Linked DNA regions of Homo sapiens: all the other regions are linked to region 5. The links come from fine-mapping of genetic effects on gene expression. A gene starts in region 5. Each other region holds a variant in brackets. All regions are shown on one strand. Distances are between the middles of the regions. Region 1 holds the start of LOC101929439 (a long non-coding RNA gene). Region 2 overlaps SCAPER (S-phase cyclin A associated protein in the ER). Region 3 overlaps SCAPER (S-phase cyclin A associated protein in the ER). Region 4 overlaps SCAPER (S-phase cyclin A associated protein in the ER). Region 5 holds the start of ISL2 (ISL LIM homeobox 2).

The links.
Region 1: its variant is fine-mapped to the expression of ISL2 in whole blood (INTERVAL, PIP above 0.99).
Region 2: its variant is fine-mapped to the expression of ISL2 in whole blood (TOPMed, PIP above 0.99).
Region 3: its variant is fine-mapped to the expression of ISL2 in whole blood (TOPMed, PIP 0.94).
Region 4: its variant is fine-mapped to the expression of ISL2 in whole blood (TOPMed, PIP above 0.99).

The regions. Positions count from the first base shown.
Region 1 is chr15:76,177,703-76,181,822 of GRCh38, reverse strand. All of the region lies in intron 8 of TMEM266 (transmembrane protein 266), which reads right to left. It overlaps LOC101929439 (a long non-coding RNA gene), which reads left to right and starts at 337. Exons shown (of 3, transcript NR_120360.1): 1 at 337-871; 2 at 3,039-3,277. RefSeq lists an enhancer at 197-246. The variant T/C (reference allele first, on the strand shown) is at 2,198.
Region 2 is chr15:76,719,723-76,723,842 of GRCh38, reverse strand. The region is part of intron 17 of SCAPER (S-phase cyclin A associated protein in the ER); the gene reads left to right. Among named protein-coding and RNA genes, the nearest start is that of MIR3713, 140 kb to the right of the region's middle. The variant A/T (reference allele first, on the strand shown) is at 1,749.
Region 3 is chr15:76,817,403-76,821,522 of GRCh38, reverse strand. The region is part of intron 5 of SCAPER (S-phase cyclin A associated protein in the ER); the gene reads left to right. Among named protein-coding and RNA genes, the nearest start is that of SCAPER, 86 kb to the left of the region's middle. The variant G/A (reference allele first, on the strand shown) is at 1,869.
Region 4 is chr15:76,442,032-76,446,151 of GRCh38, reverse strand. All of the region lies in intron 25 of SCAPER (S-phase cyclin A associated protein in the ER), which reads left to right. Among named protein-coding and RNA genes, the nearest start is that of ISL2, 110 kb to the right of the region's middle. The variant A/C (reference allele first, on the strand shown) is at 2,402.
Region 5 is chr15:76,335,034-76,339,153 of GRCh38, reverse strand. It overlaps ISL2 (ISL LIM homeobox 2), which reads right to left and starts at 2,381. Exons shown (of 6, transcript NM_145805.3): 1 at 2,213-2,381; 2 at 1,187-1,376; 3 at 640-902. The coding sequence starts at 2,270. RefSeq lists enhancers at 1,061-1,872, 2,298-2,347, 2,041-2,540, 2,352-2,646.

The DNA of each region.
Region 1 (4,120 bases), 160 kb after region 5:
TGGAGGTACATAAAACCTCAGAGGTGGTTTCGTGAGATGAGTCAGAAGAGTATATCGTTGCATTGATTTAACTGCTGCATCTAAAATGGCTTTGGTTTCTGAAGCAGCCAAGACAGAGAGAGAGACAAGGCATCCACACCGTCTCTCTGAAGGGCAGCCTCTAGCATCGTGACTTTGGACTCCATCTGTGTACCAGCGAGCCTAACTCGTCATGAAATTCTGGCCAAGATCCACCCCTCACCAAAAACAAACAAACAAACAAAAAGAATGGAAAAGAACTTCCACCTAAGGAATTGAGGAATTGCTGAATTCAGGGGTCAGAAGCCATGTGCTTCTATCACAGCAGCGGGGAGTCTGGAAGGGACTGCAGAAGGCATGGCCAGGGCTTTGGAATGGTATGACTGACCAGCAGAGAGACCTCCTCCCCTCCCGGGATCCTCTAGGCACCCCTCCCCAAGTAGGAATCTGTTAAGCATGAGGTGTGTCCACAACCAGAAGAGATCATAGGAATGAGGGAAGCAGTGAAGCCTGTTTCCCTGTCAAAGCCAGAGGGCCAGTGTGATCCAGGAGGGAAGGCACTGGAATGAGCAACAAGAGACCTGTTTTCGTCCTGGCCTCATAACTGCTGTGCCACGTTGGGCCCACCTCTCCCTTTCTCTGAGCCTCAGATGCCCCATCTGCCAAATCCTGGATTGGGCCAGCTGCCCTCCCCAGGGACCTTTCATCTGTTATATAAGGTGATTCTGGAGCACCTTGCATGTGGGCCTGTGACAAGAAATGAACTGCCATGTAGCACAGAAGGTGAAATGAATCAGATATTCATGCAAGAAACTGGCCAACAGGCTCACCTGAGAGTCTCCACAGGGTCACGGTAAGAAGCAATGTAATCTTTCTTAAAAAGTTAAGATGGGCTGGGTGCGGTGGCTCATGCCTGTAATCACAGCACTTTGGGAGGGTGAGGCGGGTGGATCACCTGAGGTCAGGAGTTTGAGACCAGCCTGGTCAACATGGTGAAACCCCGTCTCTACTAAAAATACAAAAATTAGCTGGGCATGGTGGCAGGTGCCTGTAATCCCAGCTACCCGGGAAGCTGAGGCAGGAGAATCTCTTGAACCCAGGAGGTGGAGGTTGCAGTGAGCCAAGATGGCGCCACTACACTCCAGCCTGGGTGACAGAGTGAGACTCTGTTCCAAAAAAAAAAAAAAAAAAAAAAAAGCTTAAGATGAAGAAACAGAGAGTAACTGTGCAGTGGAGACACCTGACCCACGCTGCCCCAGCCGGGTGATCCAGGCCGCATCACAGTGAGAAGTCACGTGGCCAGTGTGTCCTCTTGATGTGAGACAATAAGAATGGCACTTTCCTTCTGCAGTCTTCCTCCCAAAACCCACAACCCCAGGCTTACCCTGGGAAAAACATCAGACGAATCCCAACAGAGGGGCATCCTGTAAAACAAAAACACCCGACCAGTGCTCCCCAAAACCCTTCAGGTCATCAGAAACAAAGTCTGAGAAATTGCCACAGCCAGGAGGAGCCTAAGCCTACTGAATGCGACGTGGAGCAAACAGAGGACATAACAGATTAAATACTAAGAAAACCTGAGTACCGTATCAATGTGGGTTTGTTCATTGTAACAAATGATACTAGTGTATGATGTTAATGATGGGCAGCCAGGCACAAGGGATACAGGGAACTCTGCACCTGCTTCACTATTTTTTGGTCAATATAAAACTGTTCTAAAAAATAAAGTTTATTTTTTTAAAAAGAGCTGGGTGAAGTTGTGGCAAATAGTTGAAATAGTTGTACAAACACACCCCAGCAAGAGAGCAAGGGAGTGAAAAGCGTTTTGTTTTGTTTTGTTTTGTTTTGTTTTAGAGACAGTCTTGCTCTGTGGCCCAGGCTGGAGTGCAGTGGTGTCATTACAGCTCACTGCAGCCTCAAACTTCTGGCCTCAAGCAGTCCTCCTGCCTCAGCCTTCCAGAGCACTGGGATTACAGGTGTGAGCCATCGCGCCAGGCCAGGTGTTGTATTTAAACTGGGACCCTAACACATTTCATTGGTAAATGTCAATTTTTCAGGCAGCATATGTGAATTCAGTTTGGAAATGTCTTCATTATACTCTGAGAATTCCAGCAAGGAGACAGCAAGAGTTTGTCACAAGGAATACTAGACTGTCCTGGAACGGGGTTGGGGGCTGCCA[T/C]TGAGACAGCTGAGGGGAGCCAGGTCTGTGCCTGCAGTATAAAATACCCCATGCATAATCTGATCAATGTTTTTGCTGAGTGCTAAGTGCCATGAGTAGGAAAAAGGAGGCTCAACGTGATGGGCTGGAAAAGAACAGTGTTCACAGTTAGGACACCTGGTTCTATGCCCCCCTGGACTAGCTGTGTGCCCCCAAGGCGAGCTGCCACTGCTCAGTTTTCTTATTTGTAAAATGGGTGTGTGGGGCAGGTGTGGTGGGGCTGGTGGACTTCGGGGTCCACACCCATTAGTTGCTACCCATCATGTGTCAGGCTTTAGGCTACGATCTCATCACCATCCTTCGAGGATTCTATTACTACACCCATTTTTCAGATTAGGAAAACCAAGGCCCATAGATGTCCCATTAATGCCCAAAGCCACAAGGCCAGTAAGTGTTCTAAAGAGAGACACACCTGGGTTCGAAGCCAGCTCAAAGTCTATTTAGAACCAAGTCTATTCTCAACCATTCCATGGGCTGCTGTCTCCAAGGGTCTAGCCATCTCTGACATTCCAGGGCCCACAGTCTCATTTCCTCCAGGGTATCTGTTACCCAGTCAAGTCTCAAACCAGGTCTGAAAATACAGCTGCAAGTGAGGCATCTGTCTGCTTCGCTCTGTGGAGTGGGCACCACAGACTCCAGGAGAGCTGCCCTCCTGGTCCCTCTGGCCAGGCAGCCCCCACCCTCCCCGGTGGCCCCACTGGGAGTCCAGCCTGTCTGGCCCTTTCTGCTGTCTTAACTAAGATGACAGGCTTCAGGTGTTTTTTAAATTAAAATGGTTCGTTTCTGTTCATCTCTTTTCCAGATGTCGCTACCTAGAGGGAATCTGTCTTTATTTATTGGCTCTTTCCTGTGCAGAATGCAAGGGAGTCTCCCTCCGGCTGAGACCCCCGGGAAGGAGGCCACATGTGGAGGTGACTTGAACCAGGACGGCAGGAACCTGGGGTCCCCGGGGGGCTCCGGACAGAGGTCATGGTGGAAACCCTGGGAGGTGGGGTTGCCGTTAGGATTTTCTCCTGGCCACGTGGCGCATGTGTGGCTGAGGTGAGGTGTGCGGCAGGGTCAGCGCGTTCCCTGCTGGGCTGGGAGGCTGCGAATTTATGAGGGGCGGATGCAGCCCTGTGTCCGTGTCTTTCACGTTGCCAACTGCAGTGAAGTAGAGCATTTGTTTTCCTGTTCAACAGCAGAATGAGAACTGCCTGATCGGCTTCCAGTCGCTTTCTGGATGACACCCTGCACTTTACTTTCCCCACTTCCCTGCAGCCCCCTCTGCCTAAAGCCCAGCTTCTCTCACCTTCTTCTCCAGCCTCTGTCCCCAGTCTTCCTGTCTCCACCCTGCCCTCTCCATCCAGCCTCCAACGGCAGCCAGAAGGCTCCATCAACAACTCACATCTGAGCAGATCCCCCAGTCCTGCTTTTAATCCTCCAGGCTTCCTCTGTCCCAGCAGGATAAAGCCCAAACTCTCTGGTCAGCCACAGAGCCCCTTCCCAAGCCTGTCCCCAATCCTACTGCCTCCCTCTGCTCACCCTCTAAATGGCCCCGAACCCCGGGGGCACTGCACCCACTCGCACACCCCACACTGTTCCCTCTGCCTGGCAGCCTTCTCCCCAGGGCTCTGCTCCACATCAGCTCCTCTGGAAAGCCTTCCCCATCCTGGCCTGCAGAGCCCGGGACGTGCCCATGTGATACAGGCATTGCACCAGATTTCCACTGCCTATTTATGGGCTGCCAAACCCCCTGAGTCACCCAGAGCCCCGTGAGGACGAGGGTCACACCCTGTCCTAGGCGGCATCCACATGCCCGGCACAAGCCCAGCACAGAGCAGCTCTGGACGGTGCTGGCTAACCACGCGATATGGCAAGAGAATGAATGAAGCTGATGCCAGC
Region 2 (4,120 bases), 380 kb before region 5:
CAGGAACCCCATCTCATGTGCAGAGGCACACATAGGCTCACAAAAAAGGGATGAAGGAAGATCTACCAGGCAAATGGAAAACAATAAAAGGCAGGGGTTGCAATCCTAGTCTCTGATAAAACAGACTTTAAACCAACAAAGATCAAAAGAGACAAGGCCATTACATAATGGTAAAGGGATCAATTCAACAAGAACTAACTATCCTAAATATACATGCACCCAATACAGGAGCACCCAGATTCATAAAGCAAGTCCTTAGAGACCTACAAAGAGACTTAGACTTCCACACAATAATAATGGGAGACTTTAACACCCCACTGTCAACATTAGACAGATCAATGAGACAGAAAGTTAACAAGGATATCCAGGAATTGAACTCAGCTCTGCACCAAGCAGACCTAATAGACATCTACAGAACTCTCCACCCCAAATCAACACAATATACATTCTTTTCAGCACACCACACCACACCTATTCCAAAATTGACCACATAGTTGGAAGTAAAACACTCCTCAGCAAATGTAAAAGAAGAGAAATTATAACAAACTGTCTCTCAGACCACAGTGCAATCAAACTAGAACTCAGGATTAAGAAACTCACTCAAAACTGCTAAACTTCATGGAAACTGAACAACCGGCTCCTGAATGACTACTGGGTAAATAATGAAATGAAGGCAGAAATAAAGATGTTCTTTGAAACCAACGAGAACAAAGACACAACATACCAAAATCTCTGGGACACATTCAAAGCAGTGTGTAGAGGGAAATTTATAGCCCTAAATACCCACAAGAGAAAGCAGGAAAGATCTAAAATTGACACCCTAACATCACAATTAAAAGAACCAGAGAAGCAAGAGCAAACACATTCAAAAGCTAGCAGAAGGCAAGAAATAACTAAGATCAGAGCAGAACTGAAGGAAATAGAGACACAAAAAAACCCTTCAAAAAATCAATGAATCCAGGAGCCTGTTTTTTTAAAAGATCAGCAAAATCGATAGACTGCTAGCAAGACTAATAAAGAAGAAAAGAGAGAAGAATCAAATAGGCATAATAAAAAATGACAAAGGAGATATCACCACCGATCCCACAGAAATACAAACTACCATCAGAGAATACTATAAACACCTCTATGCAAATAAACTAGAAAATCTAGAAGAAATGGATAAATTCCTTGACACATACACCCTCCCAAGACTTAACCAGGAAGAAGTTGAATCTCTGAATAGACCAATAACAGGCTCTGAAATTGAGGCAATAATTAATAGCTTACCAACCAAAGAAAGTCCAGGACCAGACGGATTCACAGCCGAATTCTACCAGAGGTACAAGGAGGAGCTGGTACCATTCCTTCTGAAACTATTGCAATCAATAGAAAAAGAGGGAATCCTCTCTAACTCATTTTATGAGGCCAGCATCATCCTGATACCAAAGCCTAGGAGAGACACAACCAAAAAAGAGAATTTTAGACCAATATCCTTGATGAACATTGATGCAAAAATCCTCAATAAAATACTGGCAAACCGAATCCAGCAACACATCGAAAAGCTTATCCACCATGATCAAGTGGGCTTCATCCCTGGGATGCAAGGCTGGTTCAACATACGCAAATCAATAAACGTAATCCAGCATATAAACAGAACCAAAGACAAAAACCACATGATTATCTCAATAGATGCAGAAAAGGCCTTTGACAAAATTCAACAACCCTTCATGCTAAAAATTCTCAATAAATTAGGTATTGATGGGACA[A/T]ATCTCAAAATAATAAGAGCTATCTATTGAAAACCCACAGCCAAAATCATAGTGAATGGACAAAAACCGGAAGCATTCCCTTTGAAAACTGGCACAAGACAGGGATGCCCTCTCTCACCACTCCTATTCAACATAGTGTTGGAAGTTCTGGCCAGGGCAGTCAGACAGGAGAAGGAAATAAAGGGCATTCAATTAGGAAAAGGGGAAGTCAAATTGTCCCTGTTTGCCGATGACATGATTGTATATCTAGAAAACCCCATCGTCTCAGCCCAAAATCTCCTTAAGCTGATAAGCAACTTCAGCAAAGTCTCAGGATACAAAATCAGTGTACAAAAATCACAAGCATTCTTATACACCAATAACAGACAAACAGAGAGCCAAATCATGAGTGAACTCCCATTCACAATTGCTTCAAAGAGAATAAAATACCTAGGAATCCACCTTACAAGGGACGTGAAGGACCTCTTCAAGGAGAACTACAAACCACTGCTCAATGAAATAAAAGAGGACACAAACAAATGGAAGAACATTCCATGCTCATGGGTAGGAAGAATCAATATCGTGAAAATGGCCATACTGCCCAAGGTAATTTATAGATTCAATGCCATCCCCATCAAGCTGCCAATGACTTTCTTCACAGAATTGGAAAAAACTACTTTAAAGTTCATATGGAACCAAAAAAGAGCCCGCATCGCCAAGTCAATCCTAAGCCAAAAGAACAAAGCTGGAGGCATCACACTACCTGACTTCAAACTATACTACAAGGCTACAGTAACCAAAACAGCATGGTACTGGTACCAAAACAGAGTTATAGACCAATGGAACAGAACAGAGCCCTCAGAAATAATGCCGCATATCTACAACTACCTGATCTTTGACAAACCTGAGAAAAAGAAGCAATGGGGAAAGGATTCCCTATTTAATAAAAGGTGCTGGGCAAACTGGCTAGCCATATGTAGAAAGCTGAAACTGGATCCCTTCCTTACACCTTATACAAAAATTAATTCAAGATGGATTAAAGACTTAAAGGTTAGACCTAAAACCATAAAAACCCTAGAAGAAAACCTAGGCATTACCATTCAGGACATAGGCATGGGCAAGGACTTCATGTCTAAAACACCAAAAGCAATGGCAACAAAAGCCAAAATTGACAAATGGGATCTAATTAAACTAAAGACCTTCTGCACAGCAAAAGAAACCACCATCAGAGTGAACAGGCAACCTACAGAATGGGAGAAAATTTTTGCAACCTACTCATCTGACAAAGGGCTAATATCCAGAATCTACAATGAACTCAAACAAATTTACAGGAAAAAAACAACCCCATCAAAAAGTGGGCAAAGGATATGAACAGACACTTCTCAAAAGAAGACATTTATGCAGCCAAGAACCACATGAAAAAGTGCTCATCATCACTCTCCATCAGAGAAATGCAAATCAAAACCACAATGAGATACCATCTCACACCAGTTAGAATGGCGATCATTAAAAAGTCAGGAAACAGCAGGTGCTGGAGAGGATGTGGAGAAATAGGAACACTTTTACACTGTTGGTGGGACTGTAAACTAGTTCAACCATTGTGGAAGTCAGTGTGGTGATTCCTCAGGGATCTAGAACTAGAAATACCATTTGACCCAGTCGTCCCATTACTGGGTATATACCCAAAGGATTATAAATCATGCTGCTATAAAGACACATTCACATGTATGTTTATTGTGGCACTATCCACAATAGCAAAGACTTGGAACCAACCCAAATGTCCAACAATGATAGACTGGATTAAGAAAATGTGGCACATATACACCATGGAATACTATGCAGCCATAAAAAATGATGAGTTCATGTCCTTTGTAGGGACAGAATGAAGCTGTAAACCATCATTCTCAGCAAACTATCGCAAGGACAAAAAACCGAACACCACATGTTCTCACTCATAGGTGGGAATTGAATAATGAGAACGCATGGACACAGGAAGGGGAACATCACACACTGGGGACTGTTGTGGGGTGGGGGGAGGGGGGAAGTATAGCATTAGGAGATATACCTAATGCTAAATGATGAGTTAATGGGTGCAGCACACCAACATGGCACATGTATACATATGTAACAAACCTGCACGTTGTGCACATGTACCCTAAAACTTAAAGTGTAATAATAATTAAAAAAAAAAAGAAATACCATTTATTTTGTTTCAGCAACCACAATAAATTCTGTTAAGCATTCTAATAATTAATCTTAGATTTTTTTTAGCGTTTTCTACGTAAATAAACATATAATCTACCAATATATAGTTGGGATTTTTTTCCTCATCTTTATGCCTTTTGTTTCGTTAGTGGGCATCTTATTTATAAGGAATGGGTTCCACAATTAAC
Region 3 (4,120 bases), 480 kb before region 5:
AGCCTCTCTAGTAGCTGGGACTACAGGCACGCACCACTATGCCTGGCTAATTTTCTGTATTTTTTTTGTAGAGATGGAGTTTTGCCATGTTCCTCAGGCTTGTCTCCAACTCCTGCGCTCAAGTGATTTCTCGGCCCTGGCCTCCCAAAGTGCTGGGATTATAGGCGTGAGCCACCTTACTTGGCCCCTGCCATATTTTAAAATACTTTGATAGATCATTCTTCTTAGCCGTGAGCAATATTTCATTTTCTGGATGTACCACAGTTTGTTTATTCATTCATGTACTGAAGAACGTCTTGGTGGCTTCCAAGTTTTGTCAATTATGAATAAAGCTGCTATACACAGCTGTGTGCAGCTTTTTGTGTGGATGTAAGTTTTTAAATGGCTTTGGGTATTTACTAGGAGTGCAGTTGCTGGATCACATGGTAAGAGAACGTTTAGTTTTGTAAGAAACTGCCACACTGTCTTCCAAAGTAGCTGTACCATTATGCATTCCCACTAGCAATAAATGAGTGTTCCCATTGCTCTACATCCTCATCAGCATTTGCTGTTGTCAGTTTTCTGGATTTTGGTCATTCTAATAGGAGTGTAATAATATCTCATTGTTACTTTAATCTGCATTTCCCTGATGACTTATGATGTGGAGCATGTTTTCATATGTTTATTTTCCATTTGTATATCTTCTTTGGTGAAGTGTCTGTTAAGGACTTTGGCTTATTATTTAATCAAATTATTTTTCTTATTGTTGAGTTTTTTTTTTCTTTTTTAAAAAATTTTATTATTATTATACTTTAAGTTTTAGGGTACATGTGCACAACGTGCAGGTTTGTTACATATGTATACATGTGCCATGTTGGTGTGCTGCACCCATTAACTTGTCATTTAGCATTAGGTGTATCTCCTGATGCTATCCCTCCCCCCTCCCCCCAACCCACAACAGTCCCCAGTGTGTGATGTTCCCCTTCCTGTGTCCTTATGTTCTCATTGTTCAATTCCCACCTATGAGTGAGAACACGTGGTGTTTGGTTTTTTGTCCTTGCGATAGTTTGCTGAGAATGATGGTTTCCAGCTTCATCCATGTCCCTACAAAGGATATGAACTCATCATTTTTTGTGGCTGCATAGTATTCCATGGTGTATATGTGCCACATTTTCTTAATCCAGTCTATCCTTGTTGGACATTTGGGTTGGTTCCAAGTCTTTGCTATTGTGAATAGTGCCGCAATAAACATACATGTGCATGTGTCTTTATAGCAGCATGATTTATAGTCCTTTGGGTATATACCCAGTAATGGGATGGCTGGGTCAAATGGTATTTCTAGTTCTAGATCCCTGAGGAATCGCCACACCGACTTCCACAATGGTTGAACTAGTTTACCGTCCCACCAACAGTGTAAAAGTGTTCCTATTTCTCCACATCCTCTCCAGCACCTGTTGTTTCCTGACTTTTTAATGATCACCATTCAAACTGGTGTGAGATGGTATCTCATTGTGGTTTTGATTTGCATTTCTCTGATGTCCAGTGATGATGAGCATTTTTTCATGTGTCTTTTGGCTGCATAAATGTCTTCTTTTGAGAAATGTCTGCTCATATCCTTTGCCCACTTTTTGATGGGGTTGTTTTTTTCTTGTAAATTTGTTTGGGTTCATTGTAGATTCTGGATATTAGCTCTTTGTCAGATGAGTAGCTTGCAAAAATTTTCTCCCATTTTGTAGGTTGCCTGTTCACTCTGATGGTGGTTTCTTTTGCTGTGCAAAAGCCTTCCTCTCTCAACTGGTCAAAGTCATTCTCCGTCCAGCTTTGTTCTGTGCTGGTGAGGAGCTGCGTTCCTTTGGAGGAGGAGAGGCGCTCTGATTTTTAGAGTTTCC[G/A]GTTTTTCTACTCTGTTTTTTCCCTATCTTTGTGGTTTATCTACCTTTGGTCTTTGATGATGATGACGTACAGATGGGTTTTTGATGTGGATGTCCTTTCTGTTTGTTAGTTTTCCTTCTAACATTCAGGACCCTCAGCTGCAGGTCTGTTGGAGTTTGCTGGAGGTCCATTCCAGACCCTGTTTGCCTGGGTATCAGCAGCAGTGGCTGCAGAACAGAGGATATTGGTGAACTGCAAATGCTGCTGCCTGATCGTTCCTCTGGAAGTTTTGTCTCAGAGGAGTACCCAGCCATGTGAGGTGTCAGTCTGCCCCTACTGGGGGGTGGCTCCCAGTTAGGCTACTTGGGGATCAGGGACCCACTTGAGGAGGCAGTCTGCCTGTTCTCAGATCTCAAGCTGCATGCTGGGAGAACCACTACTGTCTTCAAAGCTGTCAGAGAGGGACATTAAAGTCTGCAGAGGCTACTGCTGCTTTTTGTTTGTCTGTGCCCTGCCCCCAGATGTGGAGCCCACAGAGGCAGGCAGGCCTCCTTGAGCAGTGGTGGGCTCCACCCAGTTCGAGCTTCCTGGCCGCTTTGTTTACCTACTCAAGTCTTGGCAATGGTGGGTGCTCCTCCCCCTGCCTCGCTGCCGCCTTGCAGTTTGATCTCCGACTGCTGTGCTAGCAATGAGGGAGGCTCCGTGGGCGTAGGACCCTCCGAGCCATGTGCGGGATATAATCTCCTGGTGTGCCGTTTGTTAAGCCTGTTGGAAAAGCACAGTATTAGCGTGGGATGACCCGATTTTCCAGGTGCCGTCTGTCACCCCTTTCTTTGACTAGGAAAGGGAATTCCCTGACCCCTTGGGCTTCCCTGGTGAGGCAATGCCTTGCCCTGCTTTGGCTCACGCACGGTGCGCTGCACCCACTGTCCTGCACCCACTGTCTGGCACTCCCCAGTGAGATGAACCTGGTACCTCAGTTGGAAATGCAGAAATCACCCATCTTCTGCGTCGCTCACGCTGGGAGCTGTAGACTGGAGCTGTTCCTATTTGGCCATCTTGGCTCCACCCCCCTTATTGTTGAGTTTTAAGAGTTTTTTGTATGTTTTGGATAACAGTGTCTCTTGTATGTCTTTTGCAAATATTTTCTCCCTGTCTGTGGCTTGTCTTATTCTCTCAATATTGTTTTTTGCAGAGCAGAAGTTTTTGATTTTAATGAGGTCCAGCTTATCAATTTTTTCATTCATGGACTGTGCCTTTGGTGTTGTATCTAACAATTCATTGTTGCATCCAAGACCATCTAGGTTTTTTCCCTGCAAGTTATACTTTAGGAGTTGTATAGTTTTGTATTTTACAGTTGGGTCTAGGATCCAATTTGAGTTAATTTTTGTGAAGATTATAAGTTCTGTGTCTAGATTCATTAGTTTTTGCATGTGATGTCCCATTTATTCTAGCATCATGTGTTGAAAAACAATCTTTGTTCCCTTGTATTGGCTTTGTACGTTAGTCAAAGATCAGTTGATTATATTTATGTGGGTCTGTTTCTGAGCTCTTTGTTCTGTTCCATTGACCTGTTGGTCTTTTATCCTAGTACCACCCTGTCTTGATTACTATAGCTTTTTAGTATTTCTTGACATTGGGTAGTGTTAGTCCACCAGCTTTGTTCTTCAAAATTGTATTGGCTCTACTGAGTCTTTTGCTTCTGCTGTAAACTTTAGAATCAGCTTAACTTGCTGGGATTTTGATTGAGATTGCATTGAATTTATAAATCAGGTTTGAAAGAACTGATTGACATTTTGACAATATTGAGTCATCCTATCCATGGATTATCTTTCCATTTACTTAGTTTTCTAATTTTTTTTATCAGAGTTTTGTTGTTTTCCTAATATAGATCTTATACATATTTTGTTAGTTTTATACCTAAGTATTTCATATTTTGGGGTGTTAATGTAAATGGTATTCTGTTTATTTACATATATATTTGTTATATATATTTGAGATTTATAACATGTTTTGACATACATATATGTAGTGAAATGATTACTGCAGTCTAGCAAATGAACCTATCACCTCACATAGTTACCTTTTTGTGTGTGTGGTAAGAGTAACAAAACTACTCTTTTAGTGAATTTTTAGTATACAATACGTTATCATTAACTAGTGCCCTCATGCTGTATATTAGATTTGTAGACCTGTTCATCCTACGTAATTAGAAGTTTGTATCCTTTAATCTACATCTCCCTATTTCCTTCCTCCCCCTGACCTTGTTAAC
Region 4 (4,120 bases), 110 kb before region 5:
GTCTGAATATAGGAATAACAATATTTATGATTTGTGAGAGTGTTGTGTCGATTAAGTGAAATGATCCAGATGAGCTGTTATCATGGAACCTCACATTAAGTGCCCACTAAATGTTAGCTGCTATTACTATTATCACTACTGCCCCTTCTACCACTATTTCTACAAGAAAATTCCCTGTGCAGTAAGAGTGGATATTACCTCTGGAAGAATCAGAGGTCTTAAGAAAGGGTTAAGCACTCATGCAACGCCCCTCTCGCCATCCCTTGGTGGTGTTAGAGAAGGCTGAGTGGGAAATCGAGATTTTAATCCTCATCCAGCAGTAATGATGCACCTCCACCCGGGGTGCATGGAGACTGTATTGGAAGCCTGATTTTTTACCCCTACTGAGAGATAGTGAGATTCTCCTTCCCCAGTCACCAGGATGGTGCCAGAAGGGGCCAAGTGAGATGCCAGGACTCACCAGCTTCCTGTGGTAACAAGCCCTATCCCATCCCCTCATGTGGAAACCCCTCCTGTGGAAACCAAGTAACATGCCATCTCCAGGTGGTGATATCAGTAACATGCCATCTCCAGGTGGCTAACTCAGAAGCCTGAATTCCTGCCCTCACCTGATAATGAGGCAGCCTTCACCCCCAGCTGACAGTAATGAGGTGACACTCCCTGCCCCCCATCAGAACAGTGTCAGAGGAGGTCTTCTAAAACAAGATTTCAATAAGATACAGTCTTATCATACACAAAGTTTCCAGAATATAATTTAAAAATCACTCATCATAGAAAGAACCAGGAAAATCTCAACCTGAATGAGAAAAGACAACAGATGTTACAATTCTTACATGGATTTTAAAGCAGCCACCATAAAAATGCTTCAACATGCAATTACAAATATGCTTAAAGCAAATGAAAAAGTAGTCTCGGCAAAGAAATAGAAGATATATTTTCTCACTTACAAGTGGAAACTAAGCTATGGGTATGCAAAGGCATACAGAGTGGTATAATGAACAATGGAGACTCAGGAGGAGAAAAGGTGAGAATAGGGTAAAGGATGAAATGGGTACAGTGTACACTATTCGGGTGACAGGTGCACAAAAATCCCAGACTTCACCACTATACAGTTCATCCATGTGACCAGAAACCACTTTGATCCCTAAAGCTATTGAAATAAAATAGAAGATATAAAGAATAACCAAGTGAAATGCTATAATTGAAAACTATAATAATCCAAAATTTTAAAAGTCAATGAATGTGCTCCAATGACTGAATGGGGAGAAAGGATGAAAGAATCAATGAATTTGAAGTTAGAATGATCAAAATTACCCAATCTGAAGAACAACAGAGAAAACAGACCAAAATGTTTTAAGTGACCAGAACCTAAGGACTGATGGAGCCATAACAAGAAATCTAACATTCATGTCACCAGACTCATGGGATCTAACATTCATGTCATCAGATTCATGGAAGTAGAAAAAAGACAGGGATGAAAAAGTATTTGAAGAAATAGTAGCTGAAATGGTCCCAAATTTGGCAAAAGATGTAAATGTGTGGGTTCAAGAAGCAGAGCAGACCACAAACAGAATAAACAAAAGGTAAATTGTTGGACTTAAGCCCTAACACATAGGTAATTAGATTAAACATAAATGGTTCTGAAATAACAAAATTTTATTTAAAAATGGGAAAGATTAGTTTACAGCAGTGAGGAGAGAGGGAAAACTTGTGGAAAAACTGAATTACATAATGAACATAAAAAATGTGAACTTTATTTTTTTAACTTAAGTTCCATCAAGTTCAAGACACTTTTATAAGTGGTACTACCAGCCACCTAATTCATCCCTAAAAAACTAAGGGTCCTGGGAATTTAACCATGTCAGTGCAATCTTTTTTACATTATTAACTGAAGAAAAATGGGGCCCTTTACAGATTTTTTAAGATTAGGAAACAAGAAGTCAGAAGGAGACAAATCAGGACTGAAAGGTGGATGCCCAATGATTTCCCATCAAAACTCTTGAAAAGTTGCCTACATTTGATGAGAATAAGCAGGAGTATTGCTGTGGTGGAAAAGGACCCTCTGGTGAAGCTTTCCCAGGTGTTACTCTGCTCATGCTCTGGCTAACCTTCTCAAAACGCACTCATAATGAGCAGATGTTATCATTCTTTCACCCTCCAGAAAGTCAAAAAGCAAAATGCCTTGAGCATCCCAAAATGTTGCCATGATCTTTGCTCTTGACTGGTCCGCATTTGCTTTGACTGGGCTATTTCCACCTCTTGGTAGCCATTGCTTTGATTGTGCTTTGTCTTCAGAATCATACTGGTAAAGCCATGTCCTATTGCAGTTCTTCCAAGAAGTGCTTCAGGATCTTAATCCCCCTTGTTTAAAATTTCCATTGAAAGCTGTGCTCTTGTCTGC[A/C]GCTGAGCTGGACACAATGGTTTCGGCACTCATCAAGTGGAAAGTTTGCACAACTTTAATTTTTCAGTCAGAATTGTATAAGCTACCAGTTGAGAAGTCTGTGGTGTTAGCTGTTGTTTCTGCTATTAATCATCAGTCACCTTCAATTAGAGCACAAAATGAATTCTTTCCTTGTAAATTGATGTAGATGGTCTGCTGGTGCAGGCTTCATCTTCAACATCATGTTGTCCCTTCTTAAAACAAGTTATCCATTTGTAAACTGCTGATTTCCTTGGGCCATTGTCCCCATAAACTTTTTGTAAAACACCAGTGATTTCACAATTCTTCCACCCAAGCTTCACCATAAATTTGATGTTTGTTCTTGCTTCAATGTTAGCAGAATTCGTCTTGCTCTTAAAGGGGATCTTTTCAAATGGATGTCTTATCTTTCTTTGTGCTTCCAACTAGAGCCTCTTCAGACATGTTATAACAAGTTGGTGTAAGTTTATTTTGGTGCAAAAATAATTGAAATCCATGCATAGTTTTTTCAAAATACACATTTTTCACAAACATTTTGAAGACCTCTTATATTAAGGAGCCCCTGCACTGTTTGGGAGGATGAACTAGATAATCAACTTTAGGCTTTCCAACTCTGGGAGTCTCTGATTTTCTCCATTCATCAAGGTCCACCATCTATCATTATTTTTAGAAGGTGATTCCCTCAGTGGTGGTGTTTTTTACCCCAACTTTCGCTGTTTATCTGTCTTCTCATTTGCATCAATACACATGCCCCCACCACCTTTTTCACTGGTTTTTTAAATTATTTCCTGGTTTTTGCCTGTATTCCAGATAGATGAGATTACTTGAATAACTTCATACTCATAAATAAAGACCTACAGAATCTGAGACTTAAAAGAGGTCTCAGAGATTGAGTCCATCCTTATACTAGGAAAGATATAATGGTGTTAGGGTATATCACCTAACATGGAGTCAGATGTTTTGAATTTGAGAAGCTGCTACATTATTTGCTGACTTCAAGATCTTGTGTAAGTTGCTTAACCTTTCTGAGCCTCTGTTTTCTCATTTGCATAATAGGCATAATAATAGATATACTGGAGGGTAGCTATAAACATTTAATGGATAAATATGTATAAGGGGACCTAGCTTGCCATCTTACAGTGGACTCTCAGTAAATATTAATTAAAGCTGAATGTCCTCATTTTATACATAAGGAACTGGATACTCACAAGTCATGCTGGTAGCAGCAGGTGAGATAGAATGAGAGAGACTCAGGCCTCCCAGGACAGTGCTCCCAACACACCAAAGTTGCTATGTAAATGCCTCTAAAACCTACCCATTCTTTCATTGGACAAATATTTAGGCACTGGAACTACAGAGACAAATTGTAACTCACAGTTTAGTAGGACAAACCAGTAAGAGACATTTAAAATGTAGTATAATGAGTGCTGCAGTAAAGCACAGCATGTACAAGGTGTTTGGGAATTACAGTGAGGCACATAACTTATTTTGGGGGGTGGGGAAAAGAAAAGATGTACCTCATAGACTACAGTAACTGAAGCAGGAGTAAGAGGTGAACACGTAGGATATTGCATAGAGAAGGATTTTGCGTGCAAAATTCCTTTCTTCCTTTAATTCACTTTACACCTTTGCCCAGGATGACTAAATACTATATATATCTATATCTATATATACATGTATATATAGATAGATAGATAGATA
Region 5 (4,120 bases):
AGCCGTACCTGCCCATTATACACTCAGACCCCATCTCTGGGCAGCTGCTGATTAGGACCCAGAATATTCCAGTGACAGTCCACTATGCATTGATACTCCCCCTCCCCCAGAAGAACCTGGCTAAATTGTTCATCAAACTGGGCCTCAAAACAAGATGGCAAAAACCCCTCTTTGTTGGGTTCTTGGCTCCTGGCTGACCAAGCTCCTGCCCAGCTCCCAGTTTGGAGCTGTGTTACTTACACACATACCCCTGGGCAAACCTTACCCTCTGACAATAACACATATTCCTCCAAGAAATTCCTAATACAAGCCCCAAGACGGACACCACTTAAGATTCCCTGTTGTCATCCACTCTTCTGCTCCTAGCACTGTGCCCTGCATGTTCCTGGTCATGGAGAACACGATTCTGCACAATTCTCCGTGCTCACACACTCATACACACGCAGTTTCTCCCGAGCACACGAGAATACACACAGCCTTGTTCCCAGCACACAGTTCCGCACTGATACAGAAAAACACTATCCCGGCAGACGGAACCACACACAACTGACAACTTCTCGTTAGGGACACAAGCGTACCCCTACACACACGCACGCACATACACCCCGCTCACCCCGGCACAGGCCCCGGCGCGCTTACCGGGCAGATGCAGGCCGCGGGCGCCGGGAAGCGGGCCGGGGCTGCGCGGGCTGCCGGCCGCGGCGCGCTCGAGCAGGAGGCCGTGGTCGGCGCGGCAGAGCAGCTCGTGCTCCCGCAGCGAGAACTCGTCCCCAGGCAGCAGCTGGCGGCTGCACACGGAGCAGCGGAAGCACTCGATGTGGTACACGCTGTCCCGCGCCCTCATCACCAGGTCGCTGCTGCTGAAGCCCACCTGGCACTTGGCGCACTTGATGCCGAACAGCCTGCGGGCCCAAGGTGCGGCGGTGTCAGCGCTGGGCCTGCGGCCGCCCTCATCTCCCTGGCTGCTACGGCTCCGGCGCGCGCCCAGGACACTTTGTGGCCACCAGGAGACTGCGGTGACCCGCCTGCGGGCATTCCCGGGCCCGGGGGAGCGCTGCGGCACCCGTGCGGGATGCGGATGGCCTTCTCCCTGGGCAGGGCCGGGGCGCGCGGGCAGGCCGCCATCCCCAGTCCCGGCCCCGGCCCCTGCGCGCGGTGGCCCAGCCCGCGTTCCCGCCGGCCTCACCTGACATAGTCCCGCTTGCAGTAGGTCTTCCCGTCTCTCACGAAGCACGTGCACGTCTCGTCCAGGTACTGGCTGCACTCGGCACACTTGAGGCAGGCCGCGTGCCACTCGAGGTCGGGCGACACCCGCAGGATAAACTGGTCGTGGATCTGACTCCCGCAGCCCACGCACATGGCCGTCCCGGGCTTCTCTGCCGGGGAAGGGCGCGGGGCCGCGTCAGGCCTGACTGCCCGGACCCAGGCCGGCCTCGGCTACTCCAGCCCCAACCCAACCCGCTCGCTCTCTTGCTCTTTCTTTCAAGACTTGCGACCATAAGGAAAGATGATGAGCTCTCTAAAGGTCCAGGGCATTGGAAACGAAAAACCAGTATCTTGTGGATTGCTGAAGGTTTCTTCTGTCCCCCACCCCAAATATTTCGTTATTACATTCATTAATGACAGTCGTTTTGTCGACGTGTCTTGAAACTAAACGCAAACACGAAACTAAGAAGAGAGTAAATACACAGGCACTGCGGACGCCTGGATATCAACACCTAACGGTGCTGTCCTGGCATTTCCGCTCACACACTCCCACTCACAGCGGCTGCCTCCTATCCCAACACAGACACATCGTCTTTCGGCAGTCCCCGCTCATCCTCTCAGACATTTCTTAGTTTAAATATCCCAGAGCAAGCGAAAGAAAGCTTCCTAGCTTTGAAAAACCGAAAGGCAAACAAACAACAACCAAAAAAAAAAAAACCCACATCCCTAAATCAAACCTAATTGCCTTTGCGCAAAACAGAAGCAGATTTCGCAGCCCGAAGTCATCCTAGCCGGCTTGAGAAATAGTGTTTACTTATAAAATAAAACAACAGGATTCCCAAAGATAAGCAGTCCTGCAGGAGACATGCATTCGTTTTTCCTCTCCTAAACTATTCTGACAAATAGAAGCCACTTGTAGAATCCACTAAACATTTTTCTGCATTAGAAATTTTGCATATTAAGCATACACACACACCCCACCCCACACACACACAGAAATACTTACTCTTGGAATGATCACCCATAGCACCCAGAAAAGGATAATGAAAAATAATATCCACCATGCAGAAAAAGAGATGTGCGCAAAGTGTGCGGCCAGGGGCAGAAGGACGAGGGTCGCGCGCCCGGCCTCGGCTCTTTGCTAACTAACTCCTACTGCCCCGCGGAGTTGAAGGAGCGATTCCGCACCGGCCCGCACGCAGCATGACGTCAACACGCACTAGCCCCGGGCCGGAGCTGGGGGCGGGACCTGTGGCGTCACGAAGCTTCCCCAGAACTGCCGGGGATGCGGGGGAGGTGATGGGGATCCAGGGGCTGATGGGCGGGGTGGGTTGGGTTGGAGGCTGGGGGTGAAGGGAGATTGGCTGGGAGGAAGTGGGCCAACCCTGATTGGCCCGGAGTGAACAATGGAGTGCAGCCCCCCCACCTCCGAAACCTACAAGGATCCTCTCTCATGCCCCGGGCCTGGCAATCTGGACTGGACCTTGCGTCACCGCCGAGCTGGCTCCGCGGCCGTTACAACTCTGAGCTTCCTCTTGGACTTTCGGGGCGGTTTTCCCAGGCGCGCTGGAGCTGGGTGATGGATACCTGAGGGTGGAGATGGCTCTCCTTTAAGAGCTCCCTTCTTATATAAATTAAAAAAAAAAAAATTAAACCCACTCTCAGGACGAGAGAGCCGAGGACAAGGGGGATCCGTTTGGACGTGACCGTCATCGTCCAGCTGGTCACCTTTCTCCTCTCATGTGCCTTTGTTCTTCGGGTCCAAGCTAGAGAGAGTGTAGAGAATGACCACCTGGGTTCTGATAAACTCTATTTAGACTTTCCTATCCACACACACGTAGAAAACTTTAGATTGGGGCATTACGTGGGTTGAGCCAGAACCCAGATCCAAAAGCGCTCACCCGGGACTGGGACGGGTCCTGACTCCATCCTTGCTGCTGCTGCCGCTGCTGCTGCCCCTCCTCCCTCTCCTCCACCACCACCTCCTCCTCCTGCTCCACTTCCTTTTTTTTGTTGTTTTGTTTTGCTTTTAATTTGTTGCTGTTGTTGTTTTAAATGTAACATGGACTTCCCCGCCCCCTCATTTTTCCCCCATCCAAATGGCATAGCTCCTTTTAGGAACACTGCTGGGGTCGATTGCGTGTCCAACTTCCAAAATAAAAGATTTTTCTAAACTCTTGTCCTTCATTAACAAACCCACTGCAATGCAAATAATCAGAAACGAACGTAAGGCGCTGGGTAATTTACAGTGGTATCTGCGAGGCGGCGGCTCGTTGGTCCTGAGAAAATCTGAGAGCTCTGAGCACAGTCCAGGCATTCTTTCAAAGAAATCGCTGTGGGTTTTGTTTGAAAGGGTTCAAAGACCGGCCCATGAATTATAAATAACATTTATCCAACCATGGTGTCTGTTCTTGTTTTCCCATTAAAAGGAGTACCAAGAACTTGGTGTGCGCCTGGGTGGGGCGCGAGGTGAAACGCCTGCGGATAAAGTGTCTCCACCGCCATTCCAGACCCTGCCCAGACCTTCGGGCTTGTGGGCCTGAGGGCGCGGTCGCTACTGCCGTTCTACTAAGAGCATGAGGTTGGTTGGCGTCGAAACGGATGCAGCCGAGGGCGCAGGCCGAGGCTTTGCAGAAGGCTAGGGCGAGGCCCCGAGTGCACGCTAACATTATTCGACCATGGTCCACGGTGAACGTTCCTCACCGGCCCCGCGCTGGGGCGAGCGCTTTAAGCCTCGTCCAGTAGCGTCCGGCTTTTGAGCTCCGCCTCCACCTTTAGGAGGTCTAGTCTTCTCACCGGTCCGGCTTTTTTTTTTTTTTTTTTTTTTTTTTTTTTGAGATAGACTCTTGCTGTGCCGCCCAGGCTGGAGTGTAATGGTGCGATCTCGGCTCACTGCAACCTCCGCCTCCCGGGT